2 linked regions of the Homo sapiens genome follow. The protein of the gene in region 1 purifies or fractionates together with the protein of each later gene. This does not show direct contact. Each region holds a gene or a part of one and is shown in the gene's direction. Other genes may lie near its edges.

Evidence for each region.
Region 2: the proteins of TSEN2 (region 1) and TOX2 purify together in Homo sapiens (affinity purification with mass spectrometry; one large-scale study listed by BioGRID and IntAct). This does not show direct contact.

The regions. Positions count from the first base shown.
Region 1 is NC_000003.12:12,489,724-12,495,529, forward strand, and holds part of TSEN2 (tRNA-splicing endonuclease subunit Sen2), read left to right. Parts: intron 1-60; 5' UTR 61-77; coding exon 78-266; intron 267-2,412; coding exon 2,413-2,494; intron 2,495-2,505; exon of another isoform or gene 2,506-4,582; intron 4,583-5,806.
Region 2 is NC_000020.11:44,000,924-44,005,351, forward strand, and holds part of TOX2 (TOX high mobility group box family member 2), read left to right. Parts: intron 1-4,428. UniProt on the Homo sapiens protein: Putative transcriptional activator involved in the hypothalamo-pituitary-gonadal system.

The DNA.
Region 1 (5,806 bases):
TTTGGATCAAGGTAGTTATTGATTGTCTGTTTCTTTCTGTTTGTTGTCTACTCTTTAAAGAATACCTCCTCTGAAAAATGGCAGAAGCAGTTTTCCATGCCCCAAAGAGGAAAAGAAGAGTGTATGAGACTTACGAGTCTCCATTGCCAATCCCTTTTGGTCAGGACCATGGTCCTCTGAAAGAATTCAAGATATTCCGTGCTGAAATGATTAACAACAATGTGATTGTGAGGAATGCGGAGGACATTGAGCAGCTCTATGGGAAAGTAAGTGCAGGCAGCCTTGGTAAGATTACTTTCAGACAACCCTGAGCAAGCAGTCCTTTCCTTCTCCCCATCCCAGCCATACCCCCACACCAACCATGAACAATGTGTATTCTTTCCTTGCGGTTTGGTCCAGTTGTAGGAAAAGTACAATTTGAATTAGTGCCCAAAAGCCATATGTTAGGGTAATAGAATGACAGATGGAGCACCCCTGCCCACAAACCTTTATTTCAGTGATGAAGTAGGTTCAATGGATTGACTATTTTTTTTGTCTTTAGTTGTAAAAGCAATGCATGTTTGTTAAAGGAACAAAAAAAGTAATTTACAGAAATGTAATGGGTAAAAAAGTGAAAATTCCCCACTCACTCCCATCCCGTTCCCAGAGGTAGCCACAGCGTGGCATAGTGTCCCTACTCAGGCACGGATCAGATGGGGCTTTGGCATGGAGCTCCTTATCTGCTGCCTCCTGGTTGGGGACCTCTTCTCAGATGAGGACAAGTTCTAGTTTTTACTGTTTTCCAGCATTGATCAAGTTGAATGAAGACTGGTAGTTCTTTAAAAAAAATTTTCCATAATCTGTTCATTGCTGTGGGCATTTTTAAAAAACAGCTTTATTGAGTTATAATTTACAACTATAAAGTCCTCCCATTGTAAGTATACAATTCAGTGATTGTCATAAATTTATAGAGTTGCACAACTCTCACCACAGTCCAGTTTTAGAACATTCCCATCACCACAGAGTTCCCTTGTGCCCATCACACTTAATCCCTGCTCCCACTCCCGGCCCAAGGCAGCCACGGAATGGCGTCTTGTCTCCATAAATGTGCCTTCTCTAGACACTTGATAGAAGAGTGGGTGGCACTGGCCATGGTGAGGCAGGAGTCTCAGTAGGCCAAGGGCAGCTCACCAGGGAGGCCTTCATTTACAGTATATAACATTAAGCAAGAGGCTTTATAAAGTGCTGTATGCATTATTTATTCTTGGTTTTTGTTGTTGCTGGGTGTTTTTTTTGTTTGTTTTTTGTGACAGAGTCTTACCCTGTCACCCAGACTAGGGTGCAGTGGCATGATCTCAGCTCACTGCAACCTCTACCTCCCAGGTTCAAGTGATTCTACCACCTCAGCCTCCCGAGTAGTTGGGACTACAGGCGCATGCCACCATGCCTGGCTAATTTTTGTATTTTTTGGTAGAGACAGGGTTTCACCATGTTGGCCAGGCTGGTCTTGAACCCCTGACCTCAAGTGATCTGCCCACCTCGGCCTCCCAAAGTGCCGGGATTACAGGTGTGAGCCACCATACCTGGCCTCTTTATTCTGATTGTTAATCTAAATGGAGAAAGGGGTGTTTGTTTTATTCTTTCAATTTTCTGTGTGTTTAAATATTTTGTAATGAAAAGGGGAAAAATACATGTTGTTTTTGGAATCAGCAGGAATGAGAGGAATACTTCAATTCTGGAGTACAAAAGAATCCAAGAGGTTTTTTTGGACCTAGTGGGCAGCATGGCTCCTGCCTTCAGGCACACTGTGTTCCCGAACCATATGTAGAGAAGAAACTCTGCCTCTGCCTGCCCTCGGCTTATCAGACCTAGACTGAAAGCATTAGTTATGGGATAAATGAGGTGTGCTAAAAACTTACTAGTACTCTTGAAGCGATTAGAAAGGTGTTACGCTAAGAACATCCTTAGTCATCATTAGATAATCAGAGGGAAAATGTAAAGACATGAAAAGTGGGGCGAACCTCTTGTTAACTCAGATGGGTACAGTCGGCCCTCCATATCATGGGTTCCACTTCCGTGGATTCACCCAACCTTGGATTGAAGATATTTTGGGAGAAAAATTGCATGTGTACCAAACGGGGACTTTATTTTCTTATATTAAACAATATAACAACTATTTACATAGCATTTGCATTGCATTAGGTATTATAAGTAGCCTAGAGATGACTTAAAGTATATGGGAGGGCCTACGTAGACTATATATAAATACTGCACCATTTTATATCAGGGACTCGACCATCTGCCGATTTTGGTATCCACCAGAGGTCCTGGAACCAGCCCCCTGTGGATACTGAGGGATTACTGTATATTCTACCTCAGCTAAAAAACTGGTAACTAAGCATGAACTAACTTCATTTTCTCTCTTCCTGGAAGGGTTATTTTGGAAAAGGTATTCTTTCAAGAAGCCGTCCAAGCTTCACAATTTCAGATCCTAAACTGGTTGCTAAATGGAAAGGTAAAGTTGTTGTATCATTCAGTTCTTTTGACAAATTAATCATTTTCCTTTGTTTTTGATCTTATATCTCAGGCTATATAGTAAAATTCTAGAGAAGTAACATGTACACTGGCAGTTTTACTGCCAAAGTTAGCTAGAATAATTCTAATCAAAGCAAAAGGGTTATGATTGGGTGACAGTGTGTTTAATTTCTAGAATTATCAAGTGTTAATTGGGCTTTTCTGTTGTTAAGTGTTTGCTTAGCAGAGTACTATGCCTATGGCAGGTACTGGTAGTTAAGTACCTGCTCACCTGTGGCACTATGCAAAATTTTTAAAATTTTGTTTCCAGAATTAGAATTTGTAATAGCCATGACATGTATGTGTGTGGTTCTCCCTTGCTGATTCTCTTTAATTTATAAATGTTTTAGAATATTTATCTAAGGAATTCTCATGGTAATTACTTAAGAACCAATACCAGCATGTTAAAACATAATTAGAAAGGATCTTTTAAAGGTTTTATTGTAAGAAAATATACAGATTAAAACTGCACTGAGATAACATGTCAACAATCAGGCAGAAATCCAAAAGTCTGACAATATACTGCATTGGTGAGGACTTCAGAAACAGACCTTCTCTTGCATTGCTGGTGGGGTGCTTGTGGTACCACCCTCATGGAGGTGAATTTGGCAATGTCTAGCAAAATTACCTATGCATTTACTTTGTTTTCTTTTCCCCCATTCCTCTCTTTCCTCAGTCCCTGGTAACCTTTATATGTTTTCTGTCTATGAATTTACCTATTATAGATATTTCATATATAAATAACAATCATACAATATTTGCCCTTTTGTGTCTGTTGCTTTCACTTAGCATATTTTCGAGGTTTGTCCCTGCCATAGTGTCTATCAGAACTTCATTCCGTTTTATAGTGGAATAATATTCCATTGTTTGGACATAGTGCCTTTAGCTCATCTGCTGATGGACACTTAGATTGTTTCTGTATTTTGGCTTTTCTGAATAATACTGTTGTGAATATTTGCATACACGTATCTGAGTCTATTTTTAGTTGTTTTGGATATATACCCAGGAGTAGAATTAATGGGTCATATGATAATTGTCTGTTTAACATTTTAAGAACTAGCTAAACTATTTTCCACATTGACCGCATCATTGTACATTCCCACCAGCAATGCACCAAAGGTTCCAATTTCTCTACATCCTTGCCAACACTTGTTTAAAAAAATAATAGTCGGCCAGGCGCGGTAGCTCACGCCTGTAATCCCAGCACTTTGGGAGGCCGAGGCGGGCAGATCATGAGGTCAGGAGTTCGAGACTAGCCTGACCAAGATGGTGAAACCCCATCTCTACTAAAAATACAAAAATTAGCCGGGCATGGTGCTGTGCACCTGTAATCCCAGCTACTCAGGAGGCTGAGGCAGGAGAATCACTTGAACCCGAGAGGCAGAGGTTGCAGTGAGCCGAGATTGCACCACTGCACTCCAGCCTGGGCGACAGAGCAAGACTCCGTTTCTAAATAAATAAATAAATAACAGAGCAAGACTCCATTTCTAAATAAATAAATAAAATAAAATAGTCATCCTAATGAGTATTAAATGGTAAAAGTTTTTCATTTTAATGAAGTCCAATTTATCTATTTTTTCTACTATTGCCTGTGCTTTTGGTATCTATTTAAGAAACCGTTGCCAAGTCCAAATCATGCAGATTTCCCTGGTGTTTTCTTTTAAGAGGTTTATAGTTTGAACTCTTAAGTTTAGGTCTTTGGTCCATTTTGTGTTAATTTTCGTATACTGTGTAAAGTAAGGGTCCAGCTTCATTGTTTTGCCTGTGGATATCCAGTTGTCCCAGTATATGCGTTTACTTTTGATCCAGCAATCTCACTTCTAGGAATTTATCTTAACAATACGCTGACAAAAATATGAAAAGAAATAGCACAGGGCTATTCATGCAACACTGTAATATCCAAAGACTGGGAACAACTTACATGTTCATCAGGAGAGGACCTGTGGAATAATCCATATTTATATAATTAATCCATATAATGAAGGACCGTGGAGCTGAGACAGGAATGGGAGATCGCTAGGATATGCTGGTAAGCGAAGACAGCACAGTATAAAGGAAAGTACATGCTGTGCTGTGGTTTATCTAAAAAGATGGAAATATAAAATAGATATTTTATTATATTTTTTGAGACAAGAGTCTCACTCACTCTGTCATCCAGGCTGGAGTACAGTTGTGCAATCTCCGATCTCAGCTCACTGCATCCTCCACTTCCTGGGTTCAAGCGATTCTCCTGCCTCAGCCTCCTGGGTGAGTAGCTGGGATTACAGGTGTATCCCACCATGCCCGGCTAATTTTTGTATTTTTAGTAGAGACAGAGTTTCGCCATGTTGAGCAGGCTGGTCTCAAACTCCTGACCTCAAGTGATCTGCCTGCCTTGGCCTCCCAAAGTGCTGGGATTACAGGCATGAGCCACTACGCCTGACCAATTTTTTTTAAATGGAAGGATAAAGCATAGTTTTTTAAAAATTCCAGTAGGAAGGGATGAAACAGGATGCAGAGAGAGGTGAGACTTTATAGATTTGACTTTGTAACCATATAAATGTATTACATAATTATAAAAAAAGTTTGGCTGGGCATGGTGGCTCACACCTGTAATCCCAGCACTTTGGGAGGCTGAGGCAGGCAGATCACCTGAGGTCAGGAGTTCAAGACCAGCCTGGCCAACATGGCGAAATCCTGTCTCTACCAAAAATACAAAAATGAGCTGGGCATGGTGGCAGGCACTTGTAATCCCAGCTACTTGGGAGGCTGAGGCAGGAGAATCGCTTGAACCCTGGAGGCGGAGGTTGCAGTGAGCCAAAATCGCGCCACTGCATTTCAGCCTGGGTGACATAATGCAACTCCGTCTCCAAAAAAAAAAAAAAAAAAAAAAGTTAAATTTTTACAAGAGATTTTTTTAAACATAGAAATGAAGTAACTGAAGCTTATATCAAGTTGGTTGTATAACCACAGAGTGAGAAATTATTTTGAGTAACTTTTGGTTTTTTTGGAGATAGGGCCTGGAGTGCAGTGGTGCAATCTCAGCTCACTGCAACCTCCACCTCCTGGGCTTATGCCGTCCTCCTACCTCAGCCTCCCGAGTAGCTGGAACTACAGGCACATGCCATCGCAGCTAGCTAATTTTTGTGTTTTTTGTAGAGACAGGGTTTCACCATGTTACCCAGGCTGGTCTTGAACTCCTGAGCTCAGACAATCCACCCGTCTCAGCTTCTGAAAAGTGCTGGGATTACAGGAATGAGCCAGTGAGCCTGGC
Region 2 (4,428 bases), on another chromosome or scaffold:
AGACTGAGCATTGGCCACTGGATTTAGGAAGATGGAGGTCATTGATGACCTTCCCAAGCAGTTTTGGTGGAAGTGGGATGAAAACATGATTGGAGTGGGTTTAAGAAAGAACGAGTGGAAATGAAGAGGTAACTCTTTGCAGATTTCCTGTAAGATTTTACTAATATTTTTAACTGGCAAAGCTCTTACGACTTAGCATCTCTTTCTATATTTTCATGAGGATGCCAGTGGTAGAGAGAAAATTAGGCACCATGGAACGGCCAATTCTACTGTAGGAAAATGCTGGGTTTGGAGTCACAAGACCAGGGTCTGAATCACAACCAGGACCTACTAGCTATGTGACACCTCTACTCTCTAAGCTCCATGTCCCTCATCTGCAAAATGAAGATAATAATCACTTCTCTACAGAACACATATGAACTAAATGGAGAAGGTACATGGACATGCTGGGCTCAGTGCCTGGCACATAGTAGGTACTCAGGACAAGTTGTTTAGTGTTCAGTGTCATGCATGTAGGATTTGATTGCATTCAGAAGAGGCATGTTCATGTTTGCGTGCTTAGTTATTTTTAAGTGTGCTAATTGCCTCTTTAAGTGAATTGTCATAATTGTGTGATTCCAATATTTTGATACAGCATATGCTTATTTTTTCAAAAGGCTTCTGGTCAATTGGGCCGGTTCCAGTGGATTGAAGTTTTGTTTTTTGACTGAAAGGAATGGACTTGAGCAGTCAGTTAGCATTCACTGGGCACCTTCTCTGTGCCAGCACCTGCTCTGTGCCAGCACCTATTTTAACAGTGCTGAGGGACAGGGAGGGAGGTGTCGGTCAAAACACATGAACAGCAGGTGGCTGAGGGGCGTGTAGTATGCTGGGAAGGAGAGCTGTGGTTTGAAACTAGAGCCTGGGACATTCCCCCATTTCCCGTGCCCATTTATTGTGTTGTAATGAGTCATTACTGTGCACTGTGCTAGGCACTGAGGACAAGAGAGTTAAAGGACTTCCCCAAAGACACAGAATAAGTAAACAGCAGCTCACTGGCTCAGGATCCTCATTTATGAGTGTTCCTAACTCACACAGCACAGGTCTGAGCACCACAGGGTGATGTGTGTCTTCAGCCTGACCACCAAGATGGGCTGGGGGCCGATTGCCTTTAGGTGGCAATAAGCCACAGATATCATATCACCCCAGAAAGTAGAGTCCCACTGCCAGCTTTCCAGTTCAGAGTCGCCACCTCCAGGAAGCCTTCCCAACCCCTCTGCCCATTCTAAGGCAAGACTCTACTCCTTTGATGCTCCCTATACAATTCCTTGTGTGTGTCCCCCATAGTATCATAATATTCATGACCACCTGCAACCATTTTGACTCTACTTACCTTTTGCTTGTGTCCCTGTCCCCCATATCCCAGTGTGCTACTGTTTGCTTATTCTGTGTCCTTGGGGAAGTCCCCACCATCTCTGAAACTCCAGATGAGGGCAGCAAGGATAGCAATAACTAACGCTGACATCACTCACTGTGTGCTCAACATTGCCCTGAGAAACTTACATGTTATTGATTCATTTATTCTTTATAGCAGCCCTGTAGATACATACTGTCATTACCTGCTTTCTCACACATGAGGAAACTGAGGCACAGAGAGGGTGTTTTAGTCTGTTTTGCATTGCTATAAAGGAATACTTGAGACTAGATCTTTTACAAAGAAAAGAGGTTTAATTGGCTCATGGTTCTGCAGGCTGTATCAGCATGGCACCCACATCTGCTCAGCTTTTGATGAGGCCTCAGGAAGCTTTTACTCCTGGGAGAAGGTGAAGGGGGGAGCAGGCATGTCACACGGCAGGAGAATGAGAGAGAGAGAGGGGAAGAGGTGCCAGTCTCTTTAAACAACCAGCTCTTGCATGAATGAATAGAGCAAAAACTCACTCATTACCACAGGGAGGGTCCCAAGCCACTACTGAAAGATCTGCCCCATGACCCAAACACTTTTGGCTCAGCCCCACCTCCAACAGTGGGTCACTTTTCAACATGAGATTTGGAGGGGACAAATATCCAAACTGTATCAGAGGGTAAGTAATGCACCCAGAGTCACACACAGGCAGTAAGTGGCAGAGCCAGGATGCAAACCCAAGCTGCCTGGCTCCTAACCACTGCACTGCACTGCCTCCTGCGTGATAGGGACAGTAGTTCCCAGCTCCAGGGCAATCATGAAGGTTGAGTGAGATGCATGTTTATGGTGTCCACCCCAGGACCTGGCTGTACATTCAACTTTTTTTTTTTTTTTTTTTTTAAGATGAGGTCTCCCTCTGTCACCCAGGCTGGAGTGCAGTGGCACAATCACAGCTCACTTCAGCCTTGACATCCTGGGCTCAAATGATCCTCCACCTCAGCCCCCGAAGTAGCTGGGACTACAGGTGCATGGCCACACACCCAGTGAATTTTTGTATTTTTTTTTGTAGAGATGGGGTTTCACCATGTTGCCCAGAGTGGTCTCAAACTCCTGGGCTCAAGCGATCCTCCCGTCTTGGCCTCCCAAAGTGCTGGGATTATAGGCCAACTCATTGTTTCTGAGCTCTTACTTTGTGTTCCAACTCTGTGCCAGGTCCTGACTGAGGCATTGGGGATATAGGGAGCAAAACTCATGTTAAATATCAGACAAATAATCACACAAGAAGTCAGTTAACTACTTATAACGATGAGTGCTTCCAAGGAAAAATTCTGGGCAATCTTGGGGTGTGAAATGGGGTTTGATCTACCCTGGAGTATCAGGGAAGACATTTAAACAAAACCTATTGTGGAGAGATGAGTAGGAACTAACCACGGGAGGGACAGTGTGTGGCAGGCGGAGTGCAGCAGAGGGAACTGTGTAGGGGAGAGCCCAGAGGCAGGAGAGGTCACTGTGGTTAGAGGGGTGGTGGGGCCAGGCCATACAAGGACTTCCAGGGCTGGATCTGGGACTGTGGACTTCATCCTGAAGGCAGTGGGGAGCTCATCATTTGATGTGGGATTGACATCGTGTGATGATCATCTTGACAGAGACCAGTCTGGCTACAGAAAGAGAATAGAGCAGCCCGAGTGGCCAATGAAAACGGCTGGTAAGAGGTGGTGGTGGCCTGGACTAGGATAGTGGCAGTGGGAAAGAAACAGATTTTAAAGATATTTTGGAGACATTTCATTGGATTTGAGAGATGTCAGGGGGTGAGTCCCAGGTTCGTGGTTCTATGAACGGGATGGAAGGTAGTGTCACTTGCTGAGATGTAGAGGACACAGGGACACGGCAGGGGAAGGGGTATTATGATCAACAAACGAGAACATTGACTGGGCATCGAGAGGCTCCGCCCTGGAGCTCAGATGAGTGACCAAGGCTGGAGGGGTAAATGTGGCACTTAGATGAGAATCGAAACCCAGACTGGTTGAGGTCCACCTGGGGAGGCAATGTAGGGCAGGAAGAGAGGGGAGTTCAGGACAGCCTGAGGAACCCTAGATGAGAACAGAGAAGGAGAAGGTGAAGCAGGAAGGTGGACATGGTCATGGCCTGTTCCCAGATGACTGTTTGCCCATCTATGAGATCATCCCACTGCAGCCCTGCAGAGGGAGGAAATGAGCAAGGGGCCATGTGGGCTCTGGGTCCCAGTGGTGGGTCCCAGGGTGGCAAGGCACTTACCCTCTCAGTCTGTTCTACGACTGTAAAGGGTAGTCTAGGGCTCTCCCCCATGGAATTTAGGTATCTTGTGCTTTCTGCTGTTGCCACAGGCTGTACACACACCCAGCTATCCCCGCTGCTCAGTAACTTCATCCAGCAGACACTCAGGGAATTGGCCACCACCAACCAGGTCCTGTGCCAGGCTCAGTGACCTTCACTATTTTAACACACGCACTTAAACAATACAATGATGCTAGAAGGTGTTATTTCTTACATGCTATTGTGGTTTAGGTTTCCCCCCACCTCTATGCATATTTCTTGATTGATTTAAGATTTAGCACTGTAGGTAACAATATATGTTACGTAGTTATATAGTCTGAAAGAGCTAGAAGGAAGATATTGAATGTTCCCAACACAAATGATAAATGTTCAAGATGCTGGATATGCCAATTACCCTGATCTGATCGTTATGCATTATTTGTATCAAAACATCACTGTGTACCCCATAAGTAAGTACCATTATTTTATGTCCATTTAAAAAATGAAAGAAAAAGTGTAGAAAACATTTACCTTTATATTTACCAATGCCTTTGATATGCTTCCTCTGTTCTGGAACATTCTCAACTATTATCTCCTCAGTTCTCCCCTGACCTATTATTCTCTCACTCTTCTCCTTCCAGAATGCTGATTGAACAGGCATCCATTAGACACTCTTACTCTGTCCGCTGTGCACATAAACTCTCTTTCATATTTCCTTTTTGACCGTCTATGCCAAACTCTGGATAATTTCTTCA